2 separate regions of the Homo sapiens genome follow, and region 2 is linked to region 1. The links come from fine-mapping of genetic effects on gene expression. A gene starts in region 1. The other region holds a variant in brackets. All regions are shown on one strand. Distances are from middle to middle.

Evidence for each region. PIP is the estimated chance that this variant, and not a neighbour inherited with it, causes the effect.
Region 2: its variant is fine-mapped to the expression of CAMK1D in monocytes after interferon gamma (Fairfax 2014, PIP 0.90).

What each region holds. Positions count from the first base shown.
Region 1 is chr10:12,345,515-12,353,802 of GRCh38, reverse strand. CAMK1D (calcium/calmodulin dependent protein kinase ID) reads right to left here and starts at 4,256. Exons shown (of 11, transcript NM_153498.4): 1 at 3,893-4,256. The coding sequence starts at 3,984. RefSeq lists enhancers at 3,108-3,267, 3,442-3,941 and silencers at 3,978-4,067, 4,238-4,797, 4,838-5,097.
Region 2 is chr10:12,825,162-12,833,483 of GRCh38, reverse strand. CAMK1D (calcium/calmodulin dependent protein kinase ID) reads right to left here. Exons shown (of 11, transcript NM_153498.4): 10 at 7,794-7,911; 11 at 1-4,715. The coding sequence ends at 4,597. Among named protein-coding and RNA genes, the nearest start is that of MIR548Q, 100 kb to the right of the region's middle. The variant G/A (reference allele first, on the strand shown) is at 5,149.

The DNA.
Region 1 (8,288 bases):
TGCCAAGGGTCTGAAAACATGTTGATTAATAGACAATAATTAAGTCTCACCACCTTATTCAGAGATATGGTTATGTTCTGGGATTCCCTTTTGTAGGAGGCTGCACTGAAGCGCACAGGTTGAAAGGTTTGTCCCTGAGACCTGACTCAGAGGTGCATCAGACAACCCAGGCCAGACCACAAAGCCCAGTCCTTTCTCTTATGCTGCTCTTTGCTTCCTCAATCTCATTTTCCACCCTCCTGGGCCAACCTTCACTCCCATTCGGCCCCCACTCTCCAGCAAGGTCCCTCTAACCATACAGCCTAACCGCCTTGACCCCTTAGCTTCCAACAGTAAATGCTCGGCTCCATGAGGTGAGATACCTGGATAAGGCAGTGGATATCAGATTACAAAGTCTGGCAAAATGAGTGCTCCTCCAGCCTTTGCAATGCTTTATTTTAAATACATGTGAACATTGTGAGCTGACAGCCCTGCTTCTTACAAGGCTTTCCTGCCTTCGTATCTTAAAGACGTAGGGAGAAAGTAGGGCAAACAAAGTGACTGGAACTGCGGCATACTTTGGAAATGAATGCCAGTGGTTAATTGTCGATGCCTTTCATTTGTGTTAGATTTCATTCAAAACAAGAGAAGGGCCCAGACTCAAAATCCCCACTGAAGGGACCAGAAGTCAACTCCACATTAAGACTCGGGCCAGAGTCACCGGTCATGGCCCAGGGTGGAGCAGGCATCTTGAACTGGGGACCACTTCTAGAAAGTACACAGAGGCGGCTGGGCGCAGTAGCTCACGCCTGTAATCCCAGCACTTTGGGAGGCCGAGGCAGGCGGATCATGAGGTCAGGAGATCGAGACCATCCTGGCTAACACGGTGAAACCCCGTCTCTACTAAAAATACAAAAAAATTAGCCAGGCATGGCGGCGGGCGTCTGTAGTCCCAGTTACTCGGGAGGCTGAGACAGGAGAATGGCGTGAACCCATGAGGCAGAGCTTGCAGTGAGCCGAGATTGCGCCACTGCACTCCAGCCTGGGCAACAGAGTGAGACTCCGTCTCAAAAAAAAAAAAAAGAAAGTCCACAGAAGCAAAAGGACGACAATCCAAAAGCTCTGAAATGCTTCCAAGTTTTCCAAGTTTAGATAACATTATGCTATCATTATTGCCATCATTATGTTTTCTCATTTATTTTATTTTATTTTTTTGAGACCGAGTCTCACTCTGTGGCCCAGGCTGGAGGGCAGTGGCGCAATCTCAACTCACTGAAATCTCTGCCTCCCCAGTTCAAGCGATTCTCCTGCCTCAGCCTCCCGAGTAGCTGGAATTATAGGCACACACCACCACACCCGGCTAATTTTGTTATTGTTAGTAGCAACAGGGTTTCACCATGTTGGCCAGGCTGGTCTCGAACTCCTGACTTAAGTGATCAGCTCGCCTCAGCCTCCCAAAGTGTTGGGATTACAGGTGTGAGCCACCACGCCCAGCCCATTATGTTTTCTTTACATTAATATTAAAGTTCGCGTTCCAAATACTAAAGTTAAGTCAAATTATTGACTAAGCATTGGCCATTACAGGATCTACAAAGTGTGTCAACCCTGTATGGACAATCAAAAGTTGCTCTGCCTATCTGTGAATACCAGCTCCGCCACTTAATAGTTAGCTAAGGTTTGGTAGCTCACATAATTATCTCTGCTGCCTTAGTTTTCTCATCTGCAAATTGGGTGTAATGGTAAATACCTACCTCATAAGGTTACTCTGAGATTTAAATGAGTTAATACACATAAGGCACGTAGAATAATACCTGATCCTGGGTATACATTTCAGAATACCACCTATGATTACCATGATTATTATGTGGAGTAAAAACATCTTGATCATCACACTGTTTCTATCATTCTTCTAGGTCCAATGCCAGTGCTACAGTGGGAAGCTCCTTTGCAAAGAATTCCATCCCAGGCAGAAGGCAATGCTTTAGGACCCTAAGAGAGACCCATTCCCAAAGCTCACAGGGAACATGGCTGGAGTCCAAGAGGCTGTTCTGCCAGAGAAGCGCTCTGGCACCAGAGGGCAAATCCCCATTTTTCCCCAAGGTGGAAACCACCCACAGTCATCTCCAAACACCATGCTCCAGCAGGAGCCACAGCTTGGAGCCTCAGCAGCCCCGCCACTGCAGAGGTGCAGCTGCACGAGTCAGTCAGGGGACAGGGCATCAGTCACCCGGAGGCTACAGGCAGGAAGCCAGTGTGGGGGGCTCGGGTGGGAACAAGCCACGGACAGGAAAGCATTCACACAGGGTGGGTCCCCATGCTCTCCCATCTCCTCATTGGCGGCCACAGTGCGGGTCCTGGATGACAAGCAAAGGCCATGCTTTCTTGTCTCTCAGTAACTTGAGCATCTCAGAATCACAACCCCAAACCCGAATAAACCTCAGTGGCAATTTTCAAAAGTTTTGACCCAAACTAACCCCTTACCTGGCTGCACTAAGAGGCAACCCCAAACCCCTATTTATTAAAAAGCTACATCTTTTTCTGTTTTCATTCCAACAAAGATAGCAAATAGGTGCCCTCCCTGAAAGGCAACAACCACAGCAGGGAGACCCCACTCTAGTCCTCAGCGTGCGCCTTCCCGGGAATCAGAAGCAGGACTGGGAAAGCCACCCTCACAACTTCTCTCCGGGGGACCCCCTGCAGATCTGCGTGGGGGTGAGGGGAAATGACTGAACAGCAGCAGACGCCGAGCCTGGAGGTGAAGACAAGCTGGGTAATGTGGTGCTGGAAAAAAGAAACCAAGCACAAAAACAAGCACACGGAAAAAAAGGAGGAAGGAAAGAAAGGGCACCCAACAACGCACTGATTTATCCCATGAAATAGCTCCCCTTTCTCTTCCCAGCCTAATCAACACCTCCATGAACCCCTGCAAAATGGGCATTTCTGACTGCACACCTGTGCGTGAATCCACACTGACAGATACTGATGCAGAGCAAATACTGATTGTGTGAGGGAAGGAAATAACTTGAACTTCAGACTCATTCGGCAGGTCCTGATTCTCTTTCACTATCAGCCTCCCCACCTATTCTGAGCCGCTCCGAAACAAAACAAACAAGACCCAACTCCTGGGCAGAAAGGGAACAGCAGCTGAGCTGAGCAGCACATGCTTGGAGCGTTCCTGCCATCGACTTCGGATTATTTCTGCTTTCTTGAGACACAGCCATCAGCATGGGACTCGATGCAGCCCGGAGAGAGCACCGCCCGCGCAGCGACGCGCACAGACCCTCCCTTGGAGACGCGCTCCCCGGCGCGTGCGGCCGAGCCCGCGTGAAATGCACAGACCCTCCGGTGAGGCTCTGCCCACGTGTGACCCTGAGCACTGCGAAGCCCTTCCCTTCCATCCTCGCGTGGCCACCCAAAGTCTTGCCTACACCTCGTACGTGCAGATGCCAATTCCATAGAAATACATGATGTAAGGACAGAAATGGGAACGACTGGAGGCTGATCTTCTCGTGACCACGTCTCGCCAACGCGGTGCGCCCATGCACACGGCGAGTAAACGCACACAGCCGGTAAACAGCCATCCCCACCATGCTCAGCCCACAGTCACGCGTGGGGAGAAGGCAGCGGAGAGGGCGGCGGTGGCAGGAGAAGTGGGAAGTCGCGCGCCCGCGTGGGCTGCTCCCTGACAGCCCGGCGCTGCCCCCTCCCCCTCCCGGGAACGGCGCCCACCCGGGGGTCGCAGGCCCACGCGTCGGGCGCGCTCGGGGGGGCTCCGCAGCGCCGAGAACGGGACAATGAGGACGCGGTGACAGGCTGGGTTTCTGCCGCGGTAGTGGCGGCGGCGGCAGCTGGAGCTGCCCGTGCAGCCCCTGCCGCGGCCACCTCCACCCTCGCCTCCCCGGTCCCCACTTACGTTCCGAGGGTCTCTTTGAACTCGAAGATCTTCTTGATGTCTTCAGCTTGCTTTTTCCAGGAGGAGCTGCTCTCGCCGTTCTCCCGGGCCATGGCCGACGAGCGCGGCGCGGAGGAGCGGCCGGGGGCGCGCTGGGGAGGGGGCGCCGGGGGCGCGGCGCGGGCGCAGAGGCGGCGGGGATGCCGGGCGGCTCGGGCTGCGGCGCAGCTTCCTCCTCTGCAGTTTCCTCTTTCGCTCTCGCCGCCGCCGCCGCGGCCGCGGTCCCTCCCTGGCTCTTATTTCTGCTGTTCTCGGGCACAGACTTCCTGCCGCCGCCGCGCGCCGGCTCCTTTGCCGCCGCCTGCCAGCCTCACTTTCTGCTACTTTCTTGCCTCCCTCCCGCTCCCTCCCTGCCGCCCGCCGCGCTCCCCCCCACCTCGCGCCTCCTCCCCCTCCTCCCCCTCCTCCCCCTCCCGCGGGCTCCCCGCCCTCTCCGTGCGCCCCGGCCGCTCCCCGCCTCCAGCGCGCCGCCTTCGGGGATGTCCCGCTCCCCTCCCAAGAGCGCCGGGCCACGGCCGTCGTGCCCCCTGGAGCCCCGGCGAGGGCGGGTACGGGCCCCCGGCAGGTGCGGGGCGCACGCGGGAGAGCCCCAGCCCCTCCGGGAGCTGGAAACGGAGCCCAGTCTGGGGGCGCCGGGGCTTTCCCGTCTCCGGCGGGAGGGGGCGCCTCTGCGTGGCTCGGAAGCGCCGGGCGGGCGGGGGTGCGCGGCGGCCGGATGCGGGGCGCCGAGGGCGGGGCGCCTTCCCGCGCTGTGGCCTGTGGCCCGGGGGACCCGAGGGGCAAGGCGTGGGGTGGGGGGGGTGGGGGCCGGTTGTTATGGCGACGGGCGGCGGCGGCGGCTGGGATGGAGGCGGAGGCGGGCGGGAGCTCATTCGCATTGCACCAAATCGGTTTCACGTCAGTTTCGGGACAGACCCGCGAGGAGCAAGCCGGGGAGCCTCTGGGCGGGTACGCGCAGGACGCGCCAGCAGCTGCCTCGTGGTCCCTTTGCGAGCAAAACTCCCGGGGGTGTTTGGCAGCCGCGCGGGCGCCCTGGTGCTGGGCTGGAGCGGCCGGCGGGCCTGGCCGGCCTGGTTGCCCTGGCTCACGCTTGGCCCCTTCTGGCATCTCCCTGTCTCCTCCCAGAGACTCAGTGGAAAGAAGTGATCGTCTGCCCCGCAGTCCCCTCGAAGGAGGAGCCCACCCGCGGCTGGCTTAGTAGGGTGTCCGGGTTGCGGGGCAGGCACCTGCTTTCCTATGGACTGCCAAAACTAACCCAGAGAATTCCCTCCGGACTCCCATCTCCCAGCTGTACTTTGGCCTGCCCGCCCCACTCCTGGTGTCCACCTGTCAGAGGGCAGCCCACGTGCTCCAGTTCCCTGGTCCCCAACCTGCAGGGGCGACCTCTTGATCGGAAAATTTTAGATTTCTTGGTATCAACACTTCGCCTCCCTCAGGGCCTCTCCTCGTAGTTGGGTAAACAGCTCTGTCTCTTGACTGGGGACACCTGTCCCATTTTCCCAGGACTGTTCCAATTTCACTGTAAAAGGAAAAAAAAAATCTGCTCCCTGAATAGGAAACTTCATCCAGCACCTTGTGCCTAGTTCTGACTCTGGCTGAAGTGGAGGCAGCCCAGCTGCTCTCCCTCAGCCCCTACTCTGACCCTAAAGAGGTCAGACGACACCCTGGCATCCCCATTCCTGGGACCTCCATGCTAGTTTCCATCTTTCAAAGACGGTTAGCTTAAGGTTTTCCAAACTGAGAAGAGCAAAGAGGGGATTTACTTGCCGGTTAGATGTAGAATAAATCCACAAACCCAATTTCCAACACGGATGGGTGAGAAGAATTACTAAGGAACCTCTCTTATACTTGAGGCACATTACCAAAGTTCAAGGCAAACAGCATCCCCTTCAATAAGAAACATTTGAAAAACTATCATGTATTTTACTTGTGCCAAAGGTTAGATAATACAAACAGTGGGAACCAGGGCATAAGTCAACTAAGATCCCAACTGTCGCTTTCTCATGCCTACAGTCAGCATCTTCTTGTCCTTTCTTTCTCCTTCCCTTCCTCCCACTGTGTTTCCTTCTCCTCTTTTCCTATTTGGTTCTCTGCTATGTTGCCCTTGCTGCCTGGCCTCAGGAACAGCCGCCAGAGCTCATGAAAACAATTCTCATTCTCAGCTATTATCCCCACAGCTGAAGAAGTGCTGATTCTCTACTACCCGGCCATAAAAAAGAATGAAATCATGTCTTTTGCAGCAACGCAGTTGGAACTGAAGGCCATTATCTTAGGTGAAATAACTCAGAAACAGAAAGTCAAATACCACATGTTCTCACTTAGAAGTGAGAGCTAAGGCTAGGCATGGTGGCTCACGCCTGTAATCCCAGCACTTTGGGAGGCCTAGGCCAGTGGATCACCTGAGGTCAGGAGTTCAAGACCAGCCTGGCCAACATGGTGAAACTCTATTAAAAATAAAAATTAGCCAGGCATGGTGGCACATGCCTGTAATCCCAGCTACTCAGGAGGCTGAGGCAGGAGAATCACTGTAACCTAGGAGGTTGCAGTGAGCGAAGATTGCACCATTGCACTCCAGCCTGGCGACAGAGCAAGACTCCATCTCAAAAAAAAAAAAAGGAGAAGAAGTGGGAGCTAAATAATGTGTATATGTGGACAGAGAGTGTGGAATAATGACATTGGAGTGGGGTAGGGGAAGGGATGAGAAATTAACTAATGGGCATGGTGTACCCTATTCTGGTGATGGTTAAGCTAAAAGCCCAGACCTCACCACTACGCAATATATCCATGTAACAAAACTGCACTTGTACCCCTAAATCTATAAAAATAACCATTAGAAAAAAAGAAAGAAGGCAATTTTACAGGAACAGTAAAGATGAAGGGAAAGCAAATGAGAACTTCCACGTGGCCTGTGGCCGTGACTTTTCCTACCAGGCTATAAGCTCCATGAGAGCAAGGCACCTGTTAACTTTCTCGCCACTGTTTCCCAGCACCTGACACGGTAACCTACCCATACTGACTGATCTGTAAATGTGTGTCGAATGGATAAAGAAATGAAATTGAGGCCAGGCGTGGCAGCTCACGCCTGTAAAATGCCAGCACTTTAAGAGGCAGAGGCAGGCGGATCACCTAAGATCAGGAGTATGAGACCAGCCCGGCCAACATGGTGAAACCCTGTCTCTGCTAAAACTACAAAAATTAGCCGGGCGTGGTGGTGTGCGCCTGTATCCCAGCTACTCAGGAGGCTGAGGCAGGAGAATCACTTGAACCCAGGAGGCAGAGGTTGCAGTGAGCCGAGATCATGCCACTGCACTCCAGCCTGGTCAACAGAGTGATATTCTGTTCAAAAAAAAAAAAAAAGAAAGAAATGAAATCGAGTTAAGACCGCTATTTGGTATTTGTTGTACTGGTGGAACTGCTGTAGGGAGCTTTATTTCTTTTCCAGACTTTCTGTAATGATGTTCATTTGGCATTATCAAGCTATTCTAAGCTGGACGAGGTCCTCAAGAAAAAGCATACTTCTTTTTTTTCTTTATTTTCTTTTTTTTTTTTTTAAGACAAATTCTTGCTCTGTCGCCACGGTAGAGTGCGGTGATCTCAGCTCACTGTAACCTCCACCACCCAGGTTCAAGCGATTCTCCTGCCTCAGCCTCCCGAGTAGCTGAGACTACAGACACGTACCACCATAACTGACTAATTTTTCTACTTTCAGTAGAGATGGGGTTTCTCCATTTTGGCCAGGCTGGTCTCAAACTCCTGACCTGAAGGGATCTGCCCACCTCAACTCCCCAAAGTGCTGGGGTTACAGGGGTGAGAAACTGCACCTGGCCAAGACACAAACTTTTTTTTTTCCAGAGTCTCGCTCTGTCGCCCAGGCTGCAGTGCAGTGGCGTGATCTCAGCTCACTGCAACCTCCACCTCCCGGGTTCAAGCAATTATTCTGCCTCAGCCTCCTGAGTAGCTGGGACTACAGGTGCGTGCCACCACACCTGGCTAACTTTTCGTATTTTTAGTAGAGACGTAATCCCAGCTACTCAGGAGTTCAGGACCAGCCTGGCCAACATGGTGAAACCCCGTCTCTACTAAAAATGGAAAAATTGGCCGGGCGCAGTGGCTCACGCCTGTAATCCCAGCATTTTGGGAGGCCAAGGTAGGTGGATCATGAGGTCAGAAGATCGAGACCATCCTGGCTAACACGGTGAAACCCTGTCTCTACTAAAAAAAAAAAGAATACAAAAAAATTAGCCGGGCGTGGTGGCAGGTGCCTGTAGTCCCAGCTACTCAGGAGGCTGAGGCGGGAGAATGGCGTGAACCCGGGAGGCGGAGCTGGCAGTGAGCCAAGAGCGTCCACTGCACTCCA
Region 2 (8,322 bases), 480 kb before region 1:
CACGATGCTTTCAAAAATAAAGTCTACCTGCACTGGGATATCATCTTTCCTTTCTGTTTAAAAATGCTCATAAAATAGCAAGCCCCAGTGGGTTAATCAGGTTAAGCTGTCATTCCACAGGGGAGAGGATCAATCCACTTTCCAAAGGGGATCACCTGGGCTCCCCCCATTCCCCCCACCCCGTGTGCCTGGTGTTCTCGGCTTCTGTCCCTCCCACCTACGATTCATCCAGGGCATGATGGACACTAGGGTAGACAGATGAGTGGGATGAGTACGGGGTAGGTAAACCGAGTCCGGGGCTCCCTAGGCCAGATTCCTTTCATCCTACTACAGATATTTCCTATGAGCCCAGCCTTGGCCAGCATGGCCATCTTTTTTGAGACGGAGTCTTGCTCTGTCACCCAGGCTGGAGTGCAGTGGCACGATCTCGGCTCACTGCAACCTCTGCCTCCCGGGTTCAAGCGATTCTCCTGCCTCAGCCTCCCGAGTAGCTGGGATTACAGGCACGCACCACCATGCCCAGCTAATTTTTGTATTTTTAGTAGAAACAGGGTTTCACCATGTTGGCCAGAATGGTCTTGATCTCTTGACCTTGTGATCTGCCCGCCTCGCTCTCCCAAAGCGCTGGGATTACAGGCGTGAGCCACTGCGCCCTGTCCACTGTCCATCTTCTTTTGCTCGCTCTATCCTGACTGCCGGGGCCCTGGACACTACACAAAGAGCTAGCTGGAGAGTGAGACTCTCTCAAAGGCCAGCGGTGGCTCAGAGACTCTACACCGTTCTCAAGGTCAGATGCTAGAAGTGACCAGAATTGTGGCCATGGTCAAGAACGCAAAGCCACTCTTCCTTTTTTTAACTTTGTATGGCACGCTTTGCCATAGCTCTTTTCTTTTAAAAGAAGACCTGAAGGGGTAGAATGTTTTCTAGTCTCCGACAGAGGCAGGGGTAGGAGGAACTGGTGAAAATCAGCCACTGTGCACTGCCAGAGCCGTGCATGGTCCTGGGGGTTGCCATTTCTCTAACACAGCAAACCCCGTCTCTCCTCAAGGGCTTTGGTGGTCATTGAGCTTCTCCTAGGTGTGCCCTGCGCCTCTGCACCACTTCATTCTGAGGCTCCGGACCCGTGTGCCCGCTGGGAAGCAGAGCCGTAGAGAGGCAGACAGCTGCCCAGACTCCAGACTCCAAGGCCACCTCTGTGAAAAGGGCCAAGCTGCTGGCCTGTTGGTGCCCGCTCACTGTTTGTCTCAATGAATAGAAACTCCTCCTATTGCCTCACGTATGAGATGAAGATCCGGGAAGCCAGGGAGCCCAGACAGGCAGCTGAGGGAAAGGCCACTCCAGGCCACTACTTCAACATTGAATACTCCAAGTGAGGAAAAGAGAATCCACTTGCTCTGAGAAGGGATAGTGACCAAATGGGGGACTTGGGCTCAGGAAGGAAGCCTGTGATGGGGTCTACGCGTCCACCCTTAGCCTCAGCCCAGCACCCTGGGTGCATGTAGAAATGCTCAGCCTCTACAGGTGGACTCTGACCTTGGTGCGGGTCCTAGGACTCTGAGACCCCATTTGTCAGACCTTCACGAAAGGCACATTCTAGGTTCTCTTCCTGTTTTATAAGAAAACAAATCATACCAAGCGCAGTGCAAAGACAACCTCTTTTTAACATGAGAGCTCTCTCAAAAGCACAAGAGCGCCTCTCTTTCTCTGAAGCAATAGGAAATTAACCCAAGCCTGGTGGGATCAGGACAGTACAGGCTTCCTGATGTCATGCTCAACAGTTGACTCTTGGGCTGAAACCAGTCACTGTCTCCTCGCACGATGTTGTTGAGACCCGGCGTGTGACAGGCCAAGCATGGCCAAGAACTGACCCGAACAGCGAGGGGGGCACCTGCACCACGGCTCACCTTTCAGAGGTTCTGCACTTTTTGGGTGAGGGATACTTTCAAACTAAGTGCATATAACATGCACCACATGTATCTGCTCCTGAAAATACTTCAATCACCAGTAATGGAACTCAGCTTCAAATGCTGCTTTCTGAATGCAAATGGTTGTATATAGCACACAGCACAAAGGGCTATTCATCACTATTCATGTACTCATCCTAGGTACCAGATTCGGGTGCATTTTCAGCGCTTGCAGCCTTCTATTACTTTGTCATGCACTGTATGAACTCGAATGTTTCCAAGACACTTCTTAGTAAGCAACCGCCTAGTTCTCCAATACTGCTTATAATATTCATTCATTGCATGGCCAACTCAGGTGACACTTGCTTCTTAACTGGGTCTAATGTCATCTTATAGACCTTTCCAGGGTTTTTAGATTTTGCAGAGTGACAGCTTGATTTTTCACCCTGTGAGCATGCGTGGCAGATGCCATGCAGAATTCCTGCCAAGCAGTGGAGTGCCTGTGAAGTGTGCGGGGACAGGGTAGACCAGCTGCCTGTCTTCCCAACTGCTCTTCTCTGTGCCTGCACTGCCATTCTCAGGGAGCAGGATGGAGCTGCTGTGCCTAATAACATTGTGTGTGTGTGTGTGTGTGTGTGTGTGTGTGTGTGTGTTTATTGAGAGGGTGGGGGGGCATCACTCAACATTCAGCCTGTACATACTCAAAGGTGTAGAAGTGACAAAGATGACTCAACCAACAGGACTTCCCATGACTGGCCAGCCAGAGGAAGAGGGCATGAGGACACAGCCAGCAGCGTTACTGGGTCGTGATGACGCAGACCTGCCGGGACACCCCCGTGGGCTCGAGGCATTGGATGGGCCTGAGAGCTGAAGCAGGGGCACTTGCAGGAATGGCACTTGAAGCCACCTGCCTGGCTTTACAGGGCAGCCTCCTGGAAGCCTCCATGAAACGCAGCTTTCCCTGGGCCACACACTGCCTGGCTCCACAAAGGCGAACAACACAGCCTGCTTTGCCCCGGATATTCCTGGTTTTGGCATTAAATGTCCACAGCCTGAGAAATCCTTCAGTCTCGGGCAAATGGGACGTTTGGTGACCCTACCACCATGTATCTTTGATTTTAGACTCCCCTGACCAATGGGAGGGCTGCAAGCACTGGCTGGGCCTGGCGGAGGTGGTCTTTGGTCATCTCTGTGGTGGCTGAAGTCCCATTAGCCTGGCAGGGCCCCCTCTCCTTACCACCAGAAATGGATCCTTTCCCAAGGCTGCTTCCCTCCCTTCCTTCCCTTGGAAAACATTCATGTGAGAAGAGGGTAAAAATGTGGAGAAAGAACTTTGTGTTGGAGGCCACGTGAAGTGTAAGATTAGAAATGCATTTTTTTAAAAACCACAGAGAAAGAGATGAATTTTAACACTGCATAGCTGAGCTTTCATCTGTTAGCTCTCGTGAGAAATGAGGGTTGTGTGTGGGCCCACTTTCAGCAACATGGCAGCTGGTTCCTTTTGCAAGGGAGGGTCCTGCATCTCTGCAGTGTGGGCATCTCACTCACAGCAAGTCTGGCCTGTGAAGCTGAGCCCTGCGTCTCGGGGGAGCAGGCTTATTTCTGGTTGCTGATGGCAAGAGGCCTCTAGGGTCTCTGGTGGGTGTGGGTTCTGCTGGATGGGTTGCCAGCAAAGGCTCTGTGCAGATTCTCTACCAAAGTCCCCCGCAGAGAAGAGAGCCTCGCAGAACTGAGGGGCCCCTCCTCCTGGGGAAGGGGAGAGAAACAGAAGGAGTAGAGGTGAAGGGCACTCTTAGCCTTGGAGACAGATTCATGATCCTCTTGTTAGAATTTTTTTTTTTTTTTTTGAGACAGAGTCTTGCTCTGTCACCCAGGCTGGAGTGCAGTGGCACGATCTCAGCTCACTGCAACCTCCGTCTCCCGGGTTCAAGCAATTCTCCTGCCTCAGCCTCCCGAGTAGCCGGGACTACAGGTGTGTGCCACCACGCCCGGCTAATTTTTTGTATTTTTAGTAGACGTGGGGTTTCACCATGTTGGCCAGGATGGCCTTGATCTCCTGACCTTGTGATCCGCCCGACTTGGCCTCCCAACGTGCTGGGATTACAGGCATGAGTCATTGCACCCGGCTGATCCTCTTATTAGAATTTTAAAAAATACCTTTAAATTCTCCTTTGAGGAAAAACAAATCTCTTAAAGGTTAACATAAAACTACTATTAAAGAGGAAAAGATATAGGTCATGTAACTTAGAGATACAAAGGACATACTTCTTAAAAGGAAAAACAAACCCTAATGCACAATATTTACCAATATTTAAATAATCCAGTTGAAACCTTTTTTTTTTTGTCATTAATGAAAAAACACACCATAGACGGTTACCTACACTGAGAAGAGTGGAAACGATGGTGTTAGGGGAGAGGAATAAGAAGGTCCGTTCAGTTAGAGCTTTGCAAGATTCGTATATACAGCACCAGATCCTATGAAATCAGCGCCCCTCGAGTCAGTACAGTTTGTGAGAAATGAACACTTCAGAATTGCAGTAGAAAATATGGCCATAAAAAAACTTCGGTCTTCCAGTCCTATGCAGGAAGGGGCACCATGCAAGGTGGGGTCTCGCTGGAGTGGCTCGCGGCTCTGGCGACCCTGGGGCTCCCCTTCCCCAGCCCCGACCCCGGGCCCCACCTCCAGGGCCAGTCACTTGCTTCCAGAGTGCACTGCCGTCACAGTGGTGGGCCTGGGTCTCCGCTCGGCTCCAACTCCTGAGACCCCCGACGAAGAAGAAATGAAACTACAGAGCGTGGAAGGTGCCAGACCTGCAGGGAACAGCAGAAGTGGGCTTCAGAGTTTCAGAGGTAAATTCTCACCCTGCTTCCCACTGCCAGGTGTCAGAGGGGCTGGGTTTATGGTGGGGGGCGGGGGGGCCCAATTTTTTTTTTTTCTTGAGATGGAGTTTCACTCTTTTCACCAGGCTGGAGTGCAGTGGCACGATCTCGGGTCACTGCAACCTCTGCCTGCCAGGTTCAAGCGATTCTCGTGCTTCAGCCTCCCGAGTAGCTGGGATTACAGGGGCTCACCACCACGCCGGGCTAATTTTTGTATTTTTAGTAGAGATGGGGTTTCACCATGTTGGCCAGGCTGGTCTCGAACTCCTGACCTCAGGTGATCCACCCACCTCAGCCTCCCAAAGTGCTGGGATTACGGGTGTGAGCCACCGCGCCCAACTTGCGGGGACCCAAATTTTTACCC[G/A]TGTGACTATTTTTACCTACCTGTGGGAAAGCCTTTGCAATGGGTTCAAAATGCTTTATTCTTAGACCTCTCCTCTCCTTTTTTTTGGTGTAATTTTAACTGCTTTGTGTTTGAAAACAACATGGTTTCACCACTGTGGTACAACAGGTTCCATGTACTGAGCACTTAATATGTAGCAGGCACCAGGCTAGTGTTGACTACATACTGTCATCATACGAATTGTCCACTTCTTATAATAGCTCTGTAAAGCAGGTATTTTAAGAAGGAATAAAGAATGATACTACCTTCCTACCCTTGGTTGGTGTGTTGTGTACACTCTTGGCTAGAAAGCATTTTGTGACGCAGAGCACTTTGAAATAAGGGTATGGTGGCTGACGCCTGTAATCTCAACACTTTGGGAGGCCAAGGTGGGTGGATCGCTTGAGTCTCAGGAGTTCCAGACCAGCTGGGGCAACCCTGGGTCTACAAAAAATACAAAAATTAGCTGCGCACGGTGGTACATGCCTGTTGTCCCAGCTACTCAGAAGGCTGAGACAGGAGGATTACTTGAGCCTAGGAGGTTGAGGTTGCAGTGAGCCGTGACTGTGCCACTGCACTCCAGTCTGGGTGACAGAGAGTGAGAGAAAGAGAGAAGAAGAGAGAGGAGAGAGGAGAAAGGAGAGGGGAGAAGGGAGAGAGGAGAGAGGAGAGGGGAGAGGGGAGAGAGGAGAGAGGAGAGAGGAGGGGAGGGGAAGGCAGGGCAAGGCAGGGCAGGGCAGGGCAGGTTAGTGGAGGAGAGGAGAAGAAAGACAAGAAAAGAAAGAAAGAAAGAAAGAAAGAAAGAAAGAAAGAAAGAAAGAAAGAAAGAAAGAAAGAAAGAAAGACAGACAGACAAAGAAAGAAAAGAAAGAAAGAAAGAAGGAAGGAAGGAAGGAAAGAAAGAGAGAAAGAAGAAAGGAAGGAAGGAAGGGAAAGAAAAAGAAAGAAAGAGAAAGAAAGAAAGGAAGAAGGAAGGAAGGAAGAGAAGAGAGAGAAAGAAAGAAAAGAAAAAGAGAGAGAAAGAAAGAAAGAAAAAGAAAAGAAAGAGAAGGAAAGAAAAAGAAAGAAAGAAGGGAGGGAGGGAAGGAAAGAAGGAAGGAAAGGAAGGAGGGAGGCAGGGAGGGAAAAGAAAAGAGAGAAGAGAGAGGGAAGGAGGGAAATAAAGGAGGGAAAGAAAAAGAAAGGAAAGCAAAAAGAAAAGAAAAAAGAGCAAGAATAGAGATGTTCACCTATTCCTGTGTGAGCTCAGCAGTCCCTGGCCTAGTGGAGCTCCTCAGAGGCTGCGCTGAAGCCCTCCCCCAGAGGATGTGCAGGCATCAAAAGCCTTGATATGAGAGGCCTCAGCCGCCACTGAGCTTGTTGGTGCAGGCCCCCAGGGAGTCTGTGTGCTCAGACATGGGGACAAACAGCCATACAAGGAGTGCTCCCGACGGGCTTTGCTGCCGATGCCAGTGTATGAATCTGTAAAGAAGGGATCCATCGTGGGGTTCCCTTTGACCAGAGGGTGGAAAAGATTCAGGGTGAAAGGGGAGCTATGGTATGTCAGGGGACACTCACAGAGATTTCTTGGGAAAATTTAAGGGCTGGATGGTCCCAAATGAGATGGGAAGATTCCTTAGAGAGGAAGGGAATCCTTTTCTGAGCCAAATGGGAAGGAGCATGATGCCCAGGGTGAGACCAGGCTGCAGGGCTGCTCCATGGTTAGGGAGATTAGGGCCACTGCTCTGATGTGGAGAGGACCCATGGGAAGGGCCAAACGGGATTATTTCCACAGAGAGAGGAGCAGTTGGGGAGAGAGATAAGGAGAGAGTAAGTGTGCCTTCGATGATGGAATAGCCCATGCAAAGACGAAGGACAATGAAATACTATTACTTTTATTGCAAAGTCAATGCACTTCACATAAATGAGCTCAAATTATCATTGTCTGCATCCAAAATATATACATTATGGAAGTCAATGGCAGGAGGCTGTCCTGAGGCTCTGCTCTCCCTTCCTCAATCCGCAAGAGTGACTGTACAATGAGAGGTAAATCAGAGGGAAGGATGGAGATGAGAAAGAGTCCAGGCCTTTATCCAGACAGACATGGCTGCGAGGACTTGAGCCCTGGATTCCTCAACTGTAAATGGAAATAGCAATACCTAGGGTTCCACGAGTGTTCAATGATTTTTCTTTTTTTTTTTTGAGAGGGAGTCTCAATCTGTCACCCAGGCTGGAGTGCAGTGGTGTGATCTCAGCTCATTGCAACCTCCGCTTCCTGGGTTCAAGTGATTCTCCTGCCTCAGCCTCCCAAGTAGCTGACATTACAGGTGCTCGCCACCACACCCGGCTAATTTTTATATTTTAGTAGAGATGGGGTTTCACCATGTTGGTCAGGCTGGTCTTAAAACTCCTGAACTCAAACAGTCCTCCTGCCTCAGCCTCCCAAAGTGTTGGGATTACAGGCGTGAGCCACTGCACCCAGCCCAGTGATTACATGTTAAAAAAAGTCCTAGGGTCGCATGACATGGGATTAAGTATAGAAAGCGCCTGGCAAACAGGAGGTGCTCGGCAGATGCCGGCTCCCTCCTCTCCACCCCAGGCTCGTCTTCAGTGTCAGCTGAGGGATTCTGGTTTTGCTACATACGCACAGTCTTTTTGGCTGGCCAAACTGAGGCTGCTCGAAACACTTGCATTTGAACTGTCCAGGCTGCTGCCGAGGTGTAGTTTTCTCATATGTCTGACGACGGCCGTGGCATTAAATGCTTGCTGAAATTTCAGAAAGGAAAAAAGCAGACAAATATTTCAGCTAATCGGAAAAGACTCTAACTGTGTTCTCTTGTTTATCACATTAGCCTAAGCATTTCAAACTCCTTACATCATTCTCATGCTACTCAAGAAGGAAAGCTTATGTTGTCCCTTCTTCTAAAAGTGCACTGATTTATTAACCCCTTTCCCCAACTAAATATTTTAGAGACTTAAAATAGTTTTCTTCTGACATCATAAATACATAGAATAAACATAAACCAATTCTCTCTGTAATTTAAGAGATGTGGCCTTTAGAATAAAAGGCATATTATAATACCTTAAAAATGTGAGATTTGAAAATAGTTTTTATTTTCCTAGTATTGGTACTTTTGTCTGAAAGATTTAGGTTGGTGCAAAAGTAATGGCAATTTT